2 separate regions of the Homo sapiens genome follow, and region 1 is linked to region 2. A link means that fine-mapping ties the variant in region 2 to the expression of a gene that starts in the linked region. Tissue or cell type: whole blood. Region 2 holds a variant in brackets; the other region holds the start of a gene. All regions are shown on one strand. Distances are from middle to middle.

Region 1 (8,150 bases), 37 kb before region 2:
CTCAGCTTACTGCAACCTCTGCCTCCTGGATTCAAGCGAGTCTCATGCCTCAGCCTCCAGCGTAGCTGGGATTACAGGCACACGCCACCACACCAGGATAATTTTTTGTATTTTTAGTAGAGACGGGGTTTCACCATGTTGGCCAGGCTGGTCTCAAACTCCTCACCTCAAATGATCCGCCTGCCTTGGCCTCCCAAAGTGCTGGGATTACAGGTGTGACAACACTCAGCCTAGCTTATGTTATTTTAATGTAAATTCTTGGTAAACAACTTGGGACCTGCCTCTTCTCCCCAGAGTCCTGGATAACCCTCTCTGCCCTGTCTCCTTCCCACCTACCGCCCTGAAGGCTGCTTCCGCCTCTGCCCAGACTGCAGATGCTCCCAGGCTGTGTCCTCTGCCCGCCTCTTCTCTCCAGCCCTCTCTCATGGCAGTCCCACCTGACAACTCCCATGGCCTCCTGGGTGTCCTGCAAAGGCTTTGTCACTGGTGTCACTCCTCCAGGCCTCAGATAATTCCAGATACACAAGCGCTCTCCCAACAAGCCATATTCTCACCTCTGCAAAGCATTTCCAAGCATCTCCGTTTCCTCTGCATAAGCGACACGGCCCAGCCACCCGAGCCCTCGTTGCCATCCACCACTGGGCATCAGCTTCCACTCCCGTCTTTCTCGTGTCCTCTGGTCCAGCCCCTGGTGAGCTCCAGCCAAGCACCGCCTACTGGGCCTCTGGTCTTTACCTGTTCTGTTCCCTCTGCCTGGAGTTTTTTTAAGTAGAAAAATGCGAGAATGTGGAGTGGGAATGTAAAATGGTGTGGCTGCTGCAGAAAACACTTTGGTGGTTCCTGAAAAAGTTTAGGCATACACTTAGCATGGGACTCAGCATTTACCCCTTAAGCACACGCCCCATGGAAACAAAACCTGTTCCCTCGGAAACGCGCACACAGACGCTCGTAGCTACGTCCTTCGTAACAGCTGGAAGGCGGATGTTGGGAACAGGCCCCCCAAAATCTGGCCATAAACTGGCCCCAAAACTGGCCATAAACAAAATCTCTGCAGCACTGTAACATGCTCATGATGGTCATGACGCCCACGCTGGAAGGTTGTGGGTTTACCGGAATGAGGGCAAGGAACGCCTGGCCCATTCAGGGCGGAAAACCGCTTAAAGACATTCTTAATCCACAAACAATAGCGTGAGCGATCTGTGCCTTAAGGGCATGCTCCTCCTGCAGGTAACCAGCCAAACCCATCCCTTTATTTCCAGCCCATCCCTTTATTTCCCATAAAGAATGCCTTTAAATCTATAATCTATAAAAACAATGCTTATCACTGGCTTGCTGTCAATAAATATGTGGGTAAATCTCTGTTCAAGGCTCTCAGCTCTGAAGGCTGTCAGCCCCGATTTCCCACTCCACACCTCTGTATTTCTGTGTGTGTGTGTGTCTTTAATTCCTCTAGCGCCGCTGGGTTAGGGTCTCCCTGACCGAGCTGGTCTCGGCAGGCGGAGACGACCGGGTGTCCACCACAGGTGAAGGGATTAACAAATGGTGCCCGGTCCCTGGGGTGGGATATTATGCATCTGTGAACAGAAGTGAGACACTGATACACTGAGGGGACTCAGGGGCCACCACTGGGATGAGGCTTGGAAATGTGGCTTCCACCGAAAGAAGTGAGACACAAACGTTCGCACACCGCGTGATTCCTTTTATATGAAATATCCAAAACGGACAAATCCATAGAGACAGAAAGCAGATCTGTGGTTTCCAGAGGATGGGGAAGGAATGAGGAGTGATTACTTAATGGGGATGAGCTGTTGTTCTGGAGGGATGAAATGTTCTGAAACTGGAGAAGCAGAGGTTGCACAACGTCGTGAATCCAGCAAATGCCGCCGAAGTATATGCTTCAAGATGGCTGTTAAGTGAATTTCACTCCATAAAAGGTGTGTTTTAGAGGGTTATGCCCATGAGCGAGCCTACCTATACATGTGCAGTGTCACATTACTGAGACGATTCTGTTTAGAGCAAAGCCACCTACCTCCCACGTCCCTTTCCAGCCTGTCTTCTTAGCCACCTGCCTCCCACATCCTTCTCCAGCTTTGTCTCCTTGCATGCAGCCCTCTCAGGGCTTTTGAGGCCTGGAGGCCAAGGGTGCTGGGAGGTCCCACTTTGTACCCTCTCCCGAGAGCTTTGAGGGGTACCTGCCGCCTCTAGCTGTGCCTTCTCTGTGCCCTTCAACTCTGGAGTGAGGTCAGATCTTGGCTCTGGGGCCACCACCAGCTGTTTCAGGCTTGCAAAGTTCTGTCCGACAAAATACAGCTCCGCTTCCCTGTGGGGGGAAGCATTGGCCCCAACAGGCCTTCTTCACCAACGGGGACAGCAGTCCCTTGAGTGGAGCCCTGGACTCAGGGAGCTCTGGTCAGTGAAACTCTCAGCTAGGGGCTAAGGGTATGGGGACCTTCATATGTGGGACAGGCTCCTCGCTGGGGACGCTGCCACCAGGCCTGTGAGGCAGCCAGCCAAGTTCCACTTGCTGCAGCTGGGGCTGCTCTGGACGGCCAATCCAGACACCTCCCCCCTCTCCACCCTCTTTCCATCCTCAGGTTTGCATTTCTTAGGTCTGGCACTTCAACTGCAAAGTACAAGTCCTGGGCTATCTCCTCCTGCTCTGCTGAAGGCCACATCGATGCTTGGAAGGTAGGGTCAGCCCAGTCCCTTGCTCCACACACCCAACTACACTGATGGAGCGACCGTCTACACAGGGATCCTACGGTGGGGAGTGAGCCTTGCTGGCCTGATGCATGGCAGTGGTTCCTGCTCCAATAAGACCAAGAATAATTAATAACTGTGACTAAGTTAGAAGCTTTGGCTGCATCTGAATTCACCAGCGTTTCCAGCTCCTGAGGCCATGTGCGGTGTCACCTCACTCCTGGCAGACAGACTCCCACTCGGAGGATGATTTTTCATAGCCAGGGTCGCTCTGTGGACCTTGGATGGACCAACGTGCTTTCCATGTCCAACTTTGTCAAGATCCGGGGAAGATTCTCCAGCAAGTCTCTTGGAAACATGTGCATGTGGCCCCAGGCGACGTGAGGGGTGCAGTCTGCCTGCGTTATGCAATGCTCAGGCCAGTTTTCCCTGAGAGAGGAATGCTGCCGATCCTCTGCGGTAACCCACAAAACTCCACGGAGATGCTTGGAAGGAAAAGCATCGCGTCCTCCAGATGTTTTGAAATGTTCAAGTATTTAAAAGGGAAATGGAATTTCTGTTTATCCTTTTAAGTGACAATTATTCATTGCGTCTTCCTGGCCACAGCTCATTCAGCACTACTGCAGATCCGGCCAGACCCCCAGGAGCCGCGGCCCCTGCACAGCCAAGGCCAAGAAGCTCCCATCGTGGAGGGGGGCGCATTCCGGACCTGTGAGGCCCGGGGTTCGTTTTTATGCCTCCTTAAAGGGATGAGCCAGAGAAGAAAGTCTTCGCAAAGCCTTTGCCCCAGGAGGGGCGGGGCTGCGCAGGGCGCCTGTGGAGGCCGTGGCCGGGCAGGTGGGGAGGCTCACACACAGGCCAGAGGCTTCCCTGGAAACTGACGCCCTAGGGCAGGTCCAGCTCCTGGATGGTCGCAGGTGAAGAAACGCCAGGCCCAAGGGTCCTGGGAGAGAGAGGGGAACAGCGCCCAGGAAGAGGTGCAGGTTCCCAGGGACTGCAAGGGCCGCCGCCACCCTCCCACACCCCACCCTCGCTGCATCACCAGTCAGCCCAGGGCAGGCTGCTGACCCTCCCTTGGCCTCAGTTTCCTCATCTGTAAAATGGAAAAAGAAGCATGTCCACCTCACCAGTGGTCACAGTCACAGGTGCTGACATGGAGAAGGATTGATGCGTCCTCCTGAGTGCTGCCTTGTCATGCTATAAACCAGGAGGCCTGGCTCTCTGCCTCCCGGGAAGGTCTGTTTCTAATCCTGTGCTGGGTCTGCGTGGCTCCATGGCCTCAGAGGCTGACACCGAGTGTGGTGTCCCTGGGTCACCGTGCTCCTTGGTTTGGTCCAGCAGGAGAAAGGGCAGCCTGCCAAGGAGAAGGCTGTGAGCTTGGCAGGGGAGAACTTAGGCGCTGTGCCTTTGGGAGGCTGGGATTTAGATCACAGCTGGGAAGCTAAGTCCTGACTGCACTGGCCGGAACCAATGGGCTCCAGTAGCCGGATGCTCTGCCAAGTCAGGAGGTAATAACCGCCACGGCCTGGGAGAGAAGCTGGCACAGCCGTGGGCCCCTGCCCTGCGGTCTGGCCTCGCAGGTCCCCAGGCCGTGTACAGACACTGTGCGGCAGGGAAGCAGAGGCAGCCATGGGGAGCAACCCTGTTTCTCAGTGCTACATGCCTACTCTCCCTGAGCTGATGTCTGGAAGACAGTAAAGGAGACCTGAGGCAGTGCTGCCCCTCCTTCCGTCTGCCACCTCCTCAGGGCTGGCCCAGGCCCTGCAGAGCAGGTGGTGGTGGCTGCTGGTGGTAAAGCCCGTCCATCCAGAGCCTCGCTCTGCTCCCAAACCACCCACCTCCCGCTGCACATGTGGCAGCTTCAGGAGCCTGGCGGGGCTAAGAGGAGATGACAGACCCCAGCAAGGACAGGCTCAGCTTCTTGGGGACCGAGTCATTGCCTGTTGCTTCTCCTGGGGGCCTCGACTGTCCGAGTGTGTTCAGGCACACGGTGCCCTGTCTGTTTCCCAGGCACTTGGGCCAAGGCTGGACAGGGAGGTGCCATGTGGGACGAAAGCCCAGGCTGTGCAGTGCTGGTCACCGGGAGTGACCATGGGTGAAGTCGCGCTGTGAGTGACTGCCTGTTATCACTGACCACGCAGGGCCATCCTGGGTGACCCGCTGTGCCACAAGCAACTGGTTCACATTGGAGCCCCCCTCTGGAGCCCTGGGCAACCCGCTGCCAGTGGGCCTTTCTCCTGAGGCCCCTGGAGTCCCGGAGCATCCCGTGAGTTCATCTGCCATACCTGTGATTGCCATGTGGGCCCAGCGCCCTCCAATGGAAAAGCTGCATTCAGTTCTGCCCGAGGATCCCAGGCCTACGACACTGTCCTCAGGCTGCCAGGGAGCAGGAGGCTGTGGGGATCTGCGTTCTTGCCAGGCCTGGGAGCAGCAGCCAAAAAGTGGACTTACGTGGACAAAATGTTGGGCCAGGGAGGAGCCCTCGGCTCTGGACGGATGTCTCTGGTGCTTTTATGCCACGTGCATTTCTGCAGATTTGATGCCCGGCAGCCAGCACTGGGCTGTGGCCATGGTGGTGAGGCAGCCTTGGGTCTGCACGAGGCTCGGAGGCCTCCAGGAACCTCCCAGGAATGTGACTGTGCCTGGAGAGAAGCGCCATCTGCACGGCGCAGTCCAGATGCTTCTCTCCTACAAGCCCATCATCAAACACACAGCTGCCCAGACTTCAGCAGGATTTGTGCACAAGAAACGCAAAGGCACAGTCCATCGGGTGAGGCAGAGGTGGAAGGAGCACCGGGGTGGGAGTGGAGGAGCACCGAGGTGGGGGCGCAGGAGCACCGAGGCGGGGGCGCAGGAGCACCGAGGCGGGGGCGCAGGAGCACCGAGGCGGGGGCGCGGGAGCACTGAGGCTGAGCTGTCTCTAGTGATCTCTCAAGCCTCAGTGCAGTGGCCACAGGGCAAGGTGCCTCCTGGTGTGTCCTCGCCTCCAAATCAGGCTGCTCCACTTCCCAGGTCAGAGTCCTGGGGGGTTGTGTTGACCCTGAGCCCCCACGAGCATCCAATCCAGCAGAGCTGGAAGGACCCAAGAACCTGCATTCCTCATGGCTCCCATCATGCTTCCGGTCCAGGAGCCACCATCCAGACCACACTCCCATTCATCCCCTGGCCACGGAAGCTGAAGCCTTGGTTTCCCCACCTGTAAAGTGGGAGTATCAACATCACCCACATCAAAGGGCCTGGATTAGATGCGGTGATGCCCGTGGACTTTAGCAGCCCCGGTCCTCCAGGGGCCCTCCCAGGGAGCTGAGGCCCGGGTGGTCCTGGCGGCCGCTCCTTCTCCAGGCCGAAGACAGGAAGGTCTCTTGGGCTGACCTCAGGCAAGAGGCGGGGTGGGTCACGGCCTCCAGGGCCAGGCTGGGGCCTCCACAGAAAGCCCGTGGGTGGCGAGAGGGAGCCGGCTGGGGTGACTGAGGGTCGCTGGGTAGATGAGGGAGGGACCCGGGGTTCTTGTGTTCACGTGTGTATTTGCCCCGTGTTTCTGCTGACATGCCACGTGTGCAACAAACAGGCTTGGCGAGCCATCCCCACCACCCAGGCCGAGACGCCAGACGTGACTGGCACCCCAGGGTTCCCTCCCGGCCCCCAGAGGTAACCCCAATGCTGGTTTACCACAGATGACTCATTCTGCCTGTTTTAGGGTTTTGAGTAAATGAAACCCAACAGCGTGCAGTCTTTTTGCCTGGCTTCCCTTTAACCACGTCTGAGAGGCTCACTTTGCGGTTGCTTCTGTGGCTCCTGGACAGTTTCCCTTGTGCGGACACAACTCAGTGAGAGCACCCCTTCTTCCATTTGTAGACTTTCCAAATAGTCCAGGCGAGAGAGGCTCAGGTCTTGAGTTCAGGGAGGGGCAATGCACAAGCAGACGCCAAGTGGAAGGGAGTACACCCCTCCCTTGGCGGGGAGGCCCTCGGGCTGGTGGGGATGAGCGCCCCTCAGACGGCACCTGCGGGTGACAGGGTGTGACATTCTGCTGTTTCTCGGAAGTAACTCGCAAGCAGCATGGGGGTTCCTAGTGTGTTTCACAGACTCTCACCAAATGTTAGGGTTCACTCCTTGTCCTACAGCTTAAATACACCAAAAGTGAGAAAATTACGAGATAACATTTCCCTCAGAGACCCATATTCTGTGTTAAAGAATTCTTCCTTCTACCTAAATCCATCTCTTTACGGTCAGATGTCATTGGTTGTGGTATTTTGTCCATTTTCAGCTTTGTTTAGATTTTTTTGACATGCAATTAAATGCCCATATTTAAGACGTACGGTTTGATAAGTTTTGACATTCTGCTGCACCCACAGAGCCATGACCACAATCGAGACCATGGACATCCCCTCCCCCAGGCTGGCCCCTGCCCCGTCCCTCCACCCTCCTGCTCCTCTGATGACACTGACCTTTCTGTCACTGTAGATTAATTCATTTCTGTCCTGGGTAACACAGCGTGTATACTCTTATTGCCTGACATTGTCTCACAGTGTAATTATTTTGAGATTCATCCAACAATTCATCCTTTCAATGCTGGGGAGCACTAGTTGCATGGGTGTATCATAATTGGTTCATCCACTGACCCGTGGAGGACGTTCAGGTTGTTTTGGATTTTGGTGATTACAGGCAAGGTTGTTGTGAACGTTTACGACACAGTCTTTCTGTGGACGTTCCCAGAACAGACATGTCTGGGTCACATGGTGACTCTGTGTAGCTTTTTAAGAAATGGCCGAACCGTTCCCTGTGGTTCTTGTGTTATGATCCTGCCAACATGCTGCGCGCTCCAGTTGCCCCACATCCTCGCCAGCCCTTGGCAGGGCCACTTTTGAACATGTTAGCCATGCTGGTGGGTTTGTAGGCACCTCTCATACTGGTCTTCGTTTGCACTTCCCTAAGGACTAAATGGTTGTCAGCATCGTCTTGCGTGCTTCTGTCTGTTAATATAGCTTCTTTGGTGAAATATCCATTCAAATATTTTGCCTACTTTTTAATTGAATTGTTTTGTCTCATTATTGTGTTGAAAGGCTTCTTGACATGTTTTAGAAAGAAGTCCTTTTTGAACATGGTTTGCAAATAATTTCTCCAGCTTGGCAGCTTGCCTCTTTATAGTGTCTCTTAAAGGGCAAAAGTTTTAAATTAATAAAATTTAGCTTATTGGTTTTTTCATGTAGTTTGAACTTTTTGTGTTCTATTTAAAAAACCTTTCCCAAACTAAAAGTCACCATGATTTTATCTTATCTTCTTCTTACAAGTTTTACTGTTTTAGTTCACACATTTAGATTTATGACCTATTACAATTTTTTTTTTTGAGATGGAGTCTCGCTCTGTCAGCCACACTGGAGTGCAGTGGCGTGGTCTTGGCTCTCTGTAACCTCCACTTCCCAGGTTCAATCAATTTTCATGCCTCAGTC
Region 2 (8,000 bases):
TCCAAAACTGCTTTTTGTGGAAAGGACTGTAATAAATATGGGTACAAAAAGGTGGGAAATATTAAGAGCACAATTAATGACATAATATACAAAAGTGGTTCCAGTTTTGTTCACTGGTTATCCATTTTTTTTCCAATCTGTAGTTACTGTGATGCTGTGAAGTGTGCAGTGCTCTGTGTGCTCTGTGTGATCTGTGGCTACTCTGGAACTATGAAGTGTGCAGAGCTGTGCGTGATCTGTGGCCCCTCTGATGCTATAAAGTGTGCAGTGCTCTCCATGATCTGTGGCTACTCTGGAACTATGAACTGTGCAGAGCTATGTGTGATCTGTGGCTACTCTGGAACTATGAAGTGTGCAGAGCTCTGCGTGATCTGTGGCCCCTCTGATGCTATGAAGTGTGCAGTGCTCTGCGTGATCTGTGGTTTCCCTGTAACAGTCCTGGGGATGTATTGTGTTGGGCAGGTACAGGAAAAGGCAACACTAGGAAAAAGAAAATCCAGATCATGCTAATTAAAAAAGAGATGGAGGCTGGGTGCGGTGGCTCACGCCTGTAATCCCAGCACATCGGGAGGCTGAGGCAGGTGGATCCTGAGGTCAGGAGATCGAGACCATCCTGGCTAACACGGCGAAACCCTGGCTCTACTAAAAATACAAAAAAAATCTAGCTGGGCGTGGTGGTGGGCGCCTGTAGTCCCAGCTACTCAGGAGGCTGAGGCAGGAGAATGGCGTGAACCTGGGGGGCGGAGCTTGCAGTGAGCCGAGATGGTGCCACTGCACTCCAGCCTGGGCAACAGAGTGAGACTGTGTCTCAAAAACAAAAAAAGAGATGGAGCCTGCCAAAGCATTTTCCAATGAACACGCAAGTGTGCACGTGAGCTGATGCCCATTCATTACAGCCACGGCTGAGGACTCTCGGCCTTCCTGGGCGGGAACCTCCCGGTATTGGGAAATCAGCATTGGGTCTTGTAAATGCAACTGGATGGTGATCCAAAGGGGGAATTTGTGAGATGAGGTAGCAAACCTAAGAAGCCACGTCAGCTCGTTTCTGCTGGCAGCTCTCCCCACTGCACGCCACCAGCAGCCCCACTGGGCAGGTTTTCTGGGATAGCTGAGTCAAGGGGGATGGAGGCTGAGACCAGGAGATTTCGACCCAGGATTGTCCAGCTTGGGGCAGAAAACAGCCATCGAGCTGTGTGCCGAGTGCCAAATCCATCATCAGGAAACGATGAGAAAAATAGAGCTGTACTTGGAAAATACCTGCCCATTTTAAGCCCAGACTCAGGAGTCAAAACAACCCCAATGTCCTAGTGAAAGCTGGTGTGACCTGGTTACGGTAGGAGTCAAAAGAGGCAGAGACTCTGCTGAGTTGGGGCAGAGTGCAATGTTCTCGAGGACTTTCTCTCTCCCTGGAGACATAAAAATCTGAGAGCAGGTAGCGCAGGTAGGGCTGTCATCATCACAGCAGCAATCCGTCAGCAAAGCCAGACCAGTCGGGGGCCGAGGGCTGCAGCTCTCAAAGCTGGCCCTGGGCAAGGATGCCGCTTGGCAGGTACAGCTGCAGCCCCTGTCCTCAGCCTCCCCGCTATCCTCAGCCTCAGCCCGTCCTCAGCCTTGCCCCTGTCCTCAGCCTCGGCCCCTGTCCTCAGCCTCGCCCCTGTCCTCAGCCTCGGCCCTGTCCTCAGCCTCGGCCCCTGTCCTCAGCTTCACCCCTGTCCTCAGCCTCGGTCCCTGTCCTCAGCCCTCGCCCCGTCCTCAGCCTCGGCCCGTCCTCAGCCTCTCCCGTCCTCAGCCTCGCCCCTGTCCTCAGCCTCGCCCCTGTCCTCAGCCTCGGCCCTGTCCTCAGCCTCGGCCCCTGTCCTCAGCTTCACCCCTGTCCTCAGCCTCAGCCCGTCCTCAGCCTCGGCCCCTGTCCTCAGCCTCGCCCCTGTCCTCAGCCTCACCCCTGTCCTCAGCCCTCGCTCCAGTCCTCAGCCTCGCCCCTGTCCTCAGCCTCGGCCCCTGTCCTCAGCCGCAGTCCTTGTCCTCAGCCACAGCCCCCTCTCCTCAGCCTCGCCCGTCCTCAGCCTTGCCCCTGTCCTCAGCCACGGCCCCTGTCCTCAGCCTCAGCTGCAGCCACTGTCCTCAGTGTCGAAAGTCAGGTGCTCCCATGTGCTTTTAAGAGGTGGAAGCTGGGGTGATTTTTAAACATTTCTCTCTGTTGTGCTATTCCACATAATTCCCGTTATTGTAAATGACTGGTTAAAATGTTAATGTAACTGTTGTTTGTTTGTTTGAGATGGAGTTTCGCTCTTGTCACCCAGGCTGGAGTGCAGTGGTGCTATCTCGGTTCACCGCAACCTCCGCCTCCTGGGTTCAAGCGATTCTCCTGCCTCGGCCTCCCTAGTAGCTGGAACTACAGGCACCTGTCACCACGCCCAGCTAATTTTTTGTATTTTGGTAAACACAGGGTTTCACCATGTTGGCCAGGATGGTCTCGATCTCCTGACCTCATGATCTGCCCACCTCAACCTCCCAAAGTGCTGGGATTACAGGCTGAAAGAAGGTTTAGTATCATGTGACTGTTTTATAAAGCCGATAGAACAATTCATCCTTTAAAAAAATCTGTAAGAAATCAAAATACTGATAAACTGTTAATTCTGAGTGGTAGGCATTTGGACAATTGCTTTTTGTATTTTTGTGTGTTGCTTAAAATAAAACACTATAGATCCATGGGCCCCCTTCAATGGGCCAGTGTCTTCTCTCCCCACACCCATCTTCAGGGCCTCGGGCCTCGGGGAGTCTTGGGGCTTCCCTGGACCTACACAGCATCCAGCCTGGGGACACGGATCATCTCTTCGGAGGCTGCCTAGCCCCGGCCCCAGGGCCCGAGGCTTGTTGTGAGAGAAGCCTGCTTGGCTGTGACACCAGCCGTGTATGCACGGCTTCCCACTACCTGCAGGACCCAAGTCTGCAGCTAAAACCTAAACAGGAGAAGTCAGTACCATGCACTTATCACCTCTCCCCCCTCCTTCCTCCCTACTCTCCCTCCTCTTCCCCCTTCTCATCAGGTCCTTTTCCTGGCTGGTGGGTAGGAGACACGGCCTGGTTATGGGGTGAGGTGGGGCATCGTGAAGCTCGTCCCTGAGCCCTTCGAAGGTCCGATGTCCTGTTCCCTGCCCTCAGTCCCTCAGGCTCGGCAGGTGCTGAGCCTCGGCAGTGCCCAGGGAGAAGGGGGGACCGCCTGGGCTCGGCTCTGCCCACCACACACAAGGCATGGTGGGCACACCAGAGACCGTGGTGGGGGGAAAGTCCTCCTACCCCCACCTAGTGTGAGCCCACAAGCATCACTCACTCGTCTTCTGACAGATCTTCCACATCCATCTGGGACGGCTTCTCTTCCTTCTTGGCATCGGTGACCACCTGTGGGGAGTGGAGACATTTAAGGGATGGGAGGTGTCAGCCACGGGCACTGAGGCATAGCCTGTGGACCTGCTGGAGGATCAGGCTAGGGCACAGAGGCTGGATGACCTCCCATCAGACAGGGCTCTCTATTGACTGGACATTTCCAGTTAGGGGAACCTGACCAAGGAACTGCACCCTTGATGAGGCCTGGCTCCTGGACTGAAGACCAGGTCTGGCCTGTCAGCCCAACTGTGCCACTGACTGGCCCTCCTTGAGTCCTTAGAACTCATGTGCCCCAAGAATAGCCTTGTTGGGGGTTAACAACCAGCTCTCTCTGTGGCTCTGAGGGCAAAAGGGAGAGAAGGTACAGTCTGGAAAATAACTGACCCCCAGGAAGGAGCTTAAACTTGCCAAGAAAGAACTTCAATAAACTTCCAGAATGATGACTGTTCACTACAGCAAAGACATGGAGGAACACACCCCAGATGTTAGTGTTGGAAGTGCCCAGACAGGTCATTAAGTCAGCCTCTTCTTCTTACAGATAAGGATGATGATTATGGTGGTGATAATGTTGATGGTGATGACGATGGTGATGATGATGATTATAATGGTGGTGATGATGACGGTGACTATACTGGTGATGGTGGTGATGATGACAGTGATGATGATTGTGACAATGATGATGGTGATTATAATGGTGATGGTGATGATGATGGTGACAATGGTGATGGTGATTATAATGGTGGTGATGATGGTGAAGGTGATGATGGTGATGATGGTGATGGTGATGATGGTGATGGTGATGATGGTAATTATAATGGTGGTGATGATGGTGAAGGTGATGATGGTGATAATGGTGATGGTGATGATGGTGATGGTGGTGATGATGGTGATGGTGATGATGGTGGTAATGGTGATGGTGATGATGGCGATGGTGATGGTGACAATGATGATGATTATGATGGTGATGATGATGGTGATGGTGATTATAATGTTGGTGATGATGGTGACAGTGATAGTGGTGATGATGATGATGGTGGTGATGATGGTCATGATAGTGATGGTGATGATGATGCTGGTGATGGGAATGATGGTGGTGATGTGATGATGGTATTAATGATGGTGATGATGATGATGGTGATGATGGTGATTATAATGGTGATGATGACAATGGTGACGGTGATAGTGGTGATGGTGATGATGATGATGGTGATGATGGTCATGATGATGGTGATTATAATGGTGGTGATGATGGGGATAGCGATAGTGGTGATGGTGATGATGATGGTGACAGTGATGGTGGTGATGATGGTCATGATAGTGATGGTGATGATGATGCTGGTGATGGGAATGATGGTGGTGATGTGATAATGACGGTGATGATATTAATGATGGTGATGATGATGATGGTGATGGTATTAATGATG[GTGA/G]TGATGATGATGATGTGATAATGATGGTGATGGTATTAATGGTGATGATGACGGTGGTGATGATTATAATGGTGATGATGATGGTGATGGTGATTATAATGGTGGTGATGATGGTGAAGGTGATGATGGTAATAATGGTGATGGTAATAGTGACGATGATGGTGATAGTGATAGTGGTGATGGTGATGATGATGGTGACAGTGATGATGGTCATGATAGTGATGATGATGATGATGCTGCTGATGGGAATGATGGTGGTGATGTGATAATGATGGTGATATTAATGATGATGGTGATAATGTTTATGGGGATGATGTTGCTGGTGGTGATGATGATGATGGTTGTGATATAATGATGGTGTTGATGCTGAGGATAGTAATGGTGGTGATGATGATGATGATACCCCATGATGATGATGATAAGCTTTCCTGGGTGTGAGGCACTGCTCTGAGAGCTTTCCCAGACAACCCTGGAATGCGGGTACTAATATGATTCCTACTTTATAGAGGAGACAACTGAGGCACAGGGAAGTATGATGAGTTGTTTTGAGCATTTACTGACAGAACCACACATCCACCAAAGCCCAGTCTCTGAGCTTCCAGGCCTGTGCCCTTTTCACCATCCCAACGTGATCCCCCACAAGAGGTTCTGAGGACCCATGGGCACCTTGAAGGTTAACCCAGGCCCCAGAGTCTCTGATAGTGCTGAAGTGTGCGTGAGTTGGAGTGTGGGAGGGTAAGGAAGAGGCTAGACCAATCCTCAACACCAGGGAGCTCTCCTGGAGCTGCTGGCCCCAGGTCTCTGCCTCCCTATCCAACACATGGCTATTGTGGGGTAAGTTCCCAGAAAAGCCTCCCAGGCTGGCCCTGCCAGGCAGCACAGGCGCTTTCCTGGTGGCTTTGGCTCTGCTTGTCTTGCGGTTTTCCATTTTTACCTCCTCAGCATGGTCTCCCAGATCAATCTCCACAAACACAGATGCTTTCTGCGAATGGAAACCACAGAGGTGTGGATGGCAGGCTTGGGTGAGCTGGAGAGGAACGTTGATTCCCTGGGAGGAACAGTGGCCCCTGGCCCTTGGGGCAGCCGGGGCAGACCCTGGTGATGACCATCAGGTCCCCAGATCCTGGCAATGCTGAACGAGGGCTCCTGGGACGCTGGGCAGAGCTGACGGCAGTATGGACTGTGAGGTGCCCATGTAGGAGAAGGATGTAGGAGGGATATGGCTTTCTCACCCCTCCCTACTCACCTCCCATCAGGGCCCTGAGACCCCAGAGGGTCTCCTCCAACCTCATCCTCTGAGAACTCGGGCCTCCAGGAGATGGGGCAATGCCCAGATCTTGGGGAGCCGGGCTGCTCCCACCCCAGCCCTGCTCGACAAGGCAGCACTCCTGCCCCACAGCCTGCCTGTGGGCCACACTCCACACCAAGGAGCAGGAGACCCCCCCCGGGATGTGAACGGCTTCAGCGGCTCAGGGTTTTGCTGTCCCAAGGCCTCCAACGGGGCACCTGGGCCAGCCCAGAACGTGTGTCTGATGGGAGCATTTGAGTCAACTCCAAGGGCAGTGTCTGGGGGTGGGTGAAGGACTTCCCAAGAGCCCTGGAATGAAAGCAAGGCCCGCCTGGCAAGCAGCGTGTCTGGTTGTGTTACCGTCCCCACCACACAGCTTGGAGGGAGAACAAAAGCCACTTTCCTTCACACGGTGCCACGTGAGAACCCCCACAGCATGACGTGTCCCTGGACAACACATCAAGCCTGGGGCTCTGGGTGTTTTCTGGGCCAAGGTCAAGCTGAGGGCACCTCCTCTCAGGGCCTCATACACCTTTAGTGACTGCACGTTTGGCAAGCAGGGGTCAGGCTGCCCTGGGATCGGGTAAAGAGTCTCAGAGCTTGGCCCCAAGCCTCTCTAGGGTAGCAGGGGCCCAGTCAGTCCAGCTTCACAGCCTGGCGCCTGCTGAGCTGACCCCCAGGCCACCGTCCCGGGCAGGTCCAGGCTCCGGCAGAACTCCCGCCTGGACAGGCCTCCCTTCTCACTTCTATTACTAAAGGGAAAAGCTCTTACCTCTTCTTCCTGAAGGTCATTTAGCTTTATGGACTCTGCCTCCTGTTCCTGTAAGACCAAAGAGGTTAAGTGAAGGCCGGGCTCCAAGGCAAGAGGAAAAAATGCACCGCTCCTCAGCGTGGCCCAACCTTGGCCTCCTGCAAGCCTCCGTCTGCGTGCTCGCCTTCCTGCACCTCCTGCATGCTGGCCTCCAAGTCGCTCTTCTCCCTCTCTGGGTCTTGTTTTCCACTCTCATGACCCAGCTTCCCAAGGGTGCTGAAGCTTTCCTTCTTGTCTTGTGCTAGGTTTTTCTGACTGCGGGAGGAGCAGGGAAAGTGGTTTGGAAGAGACGGCAGATAGCTGCGGGCAGCTCCTGGTCTCCTCTGGGTCTGTCTCCTTGGGCTTGAGGCTGGTGCCCCTGGGGTCTGGTGGGCACCTATGAGGTGCCCTGACCCAGCACAGAGTTCTGGCTCTGAAGGGCCCCACAGCCTGGCCCTCCTGGCTCCCTCTGCTGGCCCATCTTGCCTGGAAAACTTACCCTGTACAGCCAGGGTCTGGACTGGGATTACAGCCAACCTGGGCTTATTTTGGAAAGCAGGGTCTAACCTTGCTCAAAGAACCAAAATCTGATGAGAAGATGCAGCCACCCTGTCGCAGATCCACACTCCATGTGGATACCAAATGGGCCATGCTGGCCAGTAGGCTGGAGGGTCCACGGTTGGCCCTGCTGTTACTCGCACCAACCTCGTGACCCCTTCTGTGGTCTGCTATGGTGTGTGGCCAGGGGCAAGAGGAATGCAACAGGCAGTGAGGATGACAGGGGCTCCGCCACCATCTGCAATGGCGTTGACTTGGCCGAGGGTATTGACTGACTTGGCCAACGTGAGCAGACGCTTTCAGCTTTGCCACCCTAAAGGTGTGTGGTCTTCCCAGCTCAACTGCCCTCACCAAGGCCATCAGCTTCCCTGAGCTCTACGGAGTGGGAGGCTCCAGGCGCCGCACACATCCTGTCTAACACACGAACACTCACTCTCACCAACTGATTGCACCTTTGGCCGCTTCGGCGGCCGGACACCTTCCTTGGTCTCCACTCAACGGGAGCCATTTGTAAATAAGGGGGACTTGGCCCGTGCCTTGCCATGGTGCTGGT

What was found. PIP is the estimated chance that this variant, and not a neighbour inherited with it, causes the effect.
Region 1: it holds the start of SWINGN, and the variant in region 2 is fine-mapped to the expression of SWINGN in whole blood (TOPMed, PIP above 0.99).

What each region holds. Positions count from the first base shown.
Region 1 is chr13:113,924,836-113,932,985 of GRCh38, forward strand. It overlaps SWINGN (SWI/SNF complex interacting GAS6 enhancer non-coding RNA), which reads right to left and starts at 4,156. Exons shown (of 1, transcript NR_047495.1): 1 at 1,679-4,156. It also overlaps a transcript of C13orf46 not described here. RefSeq lists an enhancer at 6,102-6,171.
Region 2 is chr13:113,961,596-113,969,595 of GRCh38, forward strand. It overlaps C13orf46 (chromosome 13 open reading frame 46), which reads right to left. Exons shown (of 7, transcript NM_001365455.2): 3 at 7,000-7,165; 4 at 6,872-6,919; 5 at 5,746-5,793; 6 at 3,332-3,399. Among named protein-coding and RNA genes, the nearest start is that of C13orf46, 8.5 kb to the right of the region's middle. The variant GTGA/G (reference allele first, on the strand shown) is at 4,809.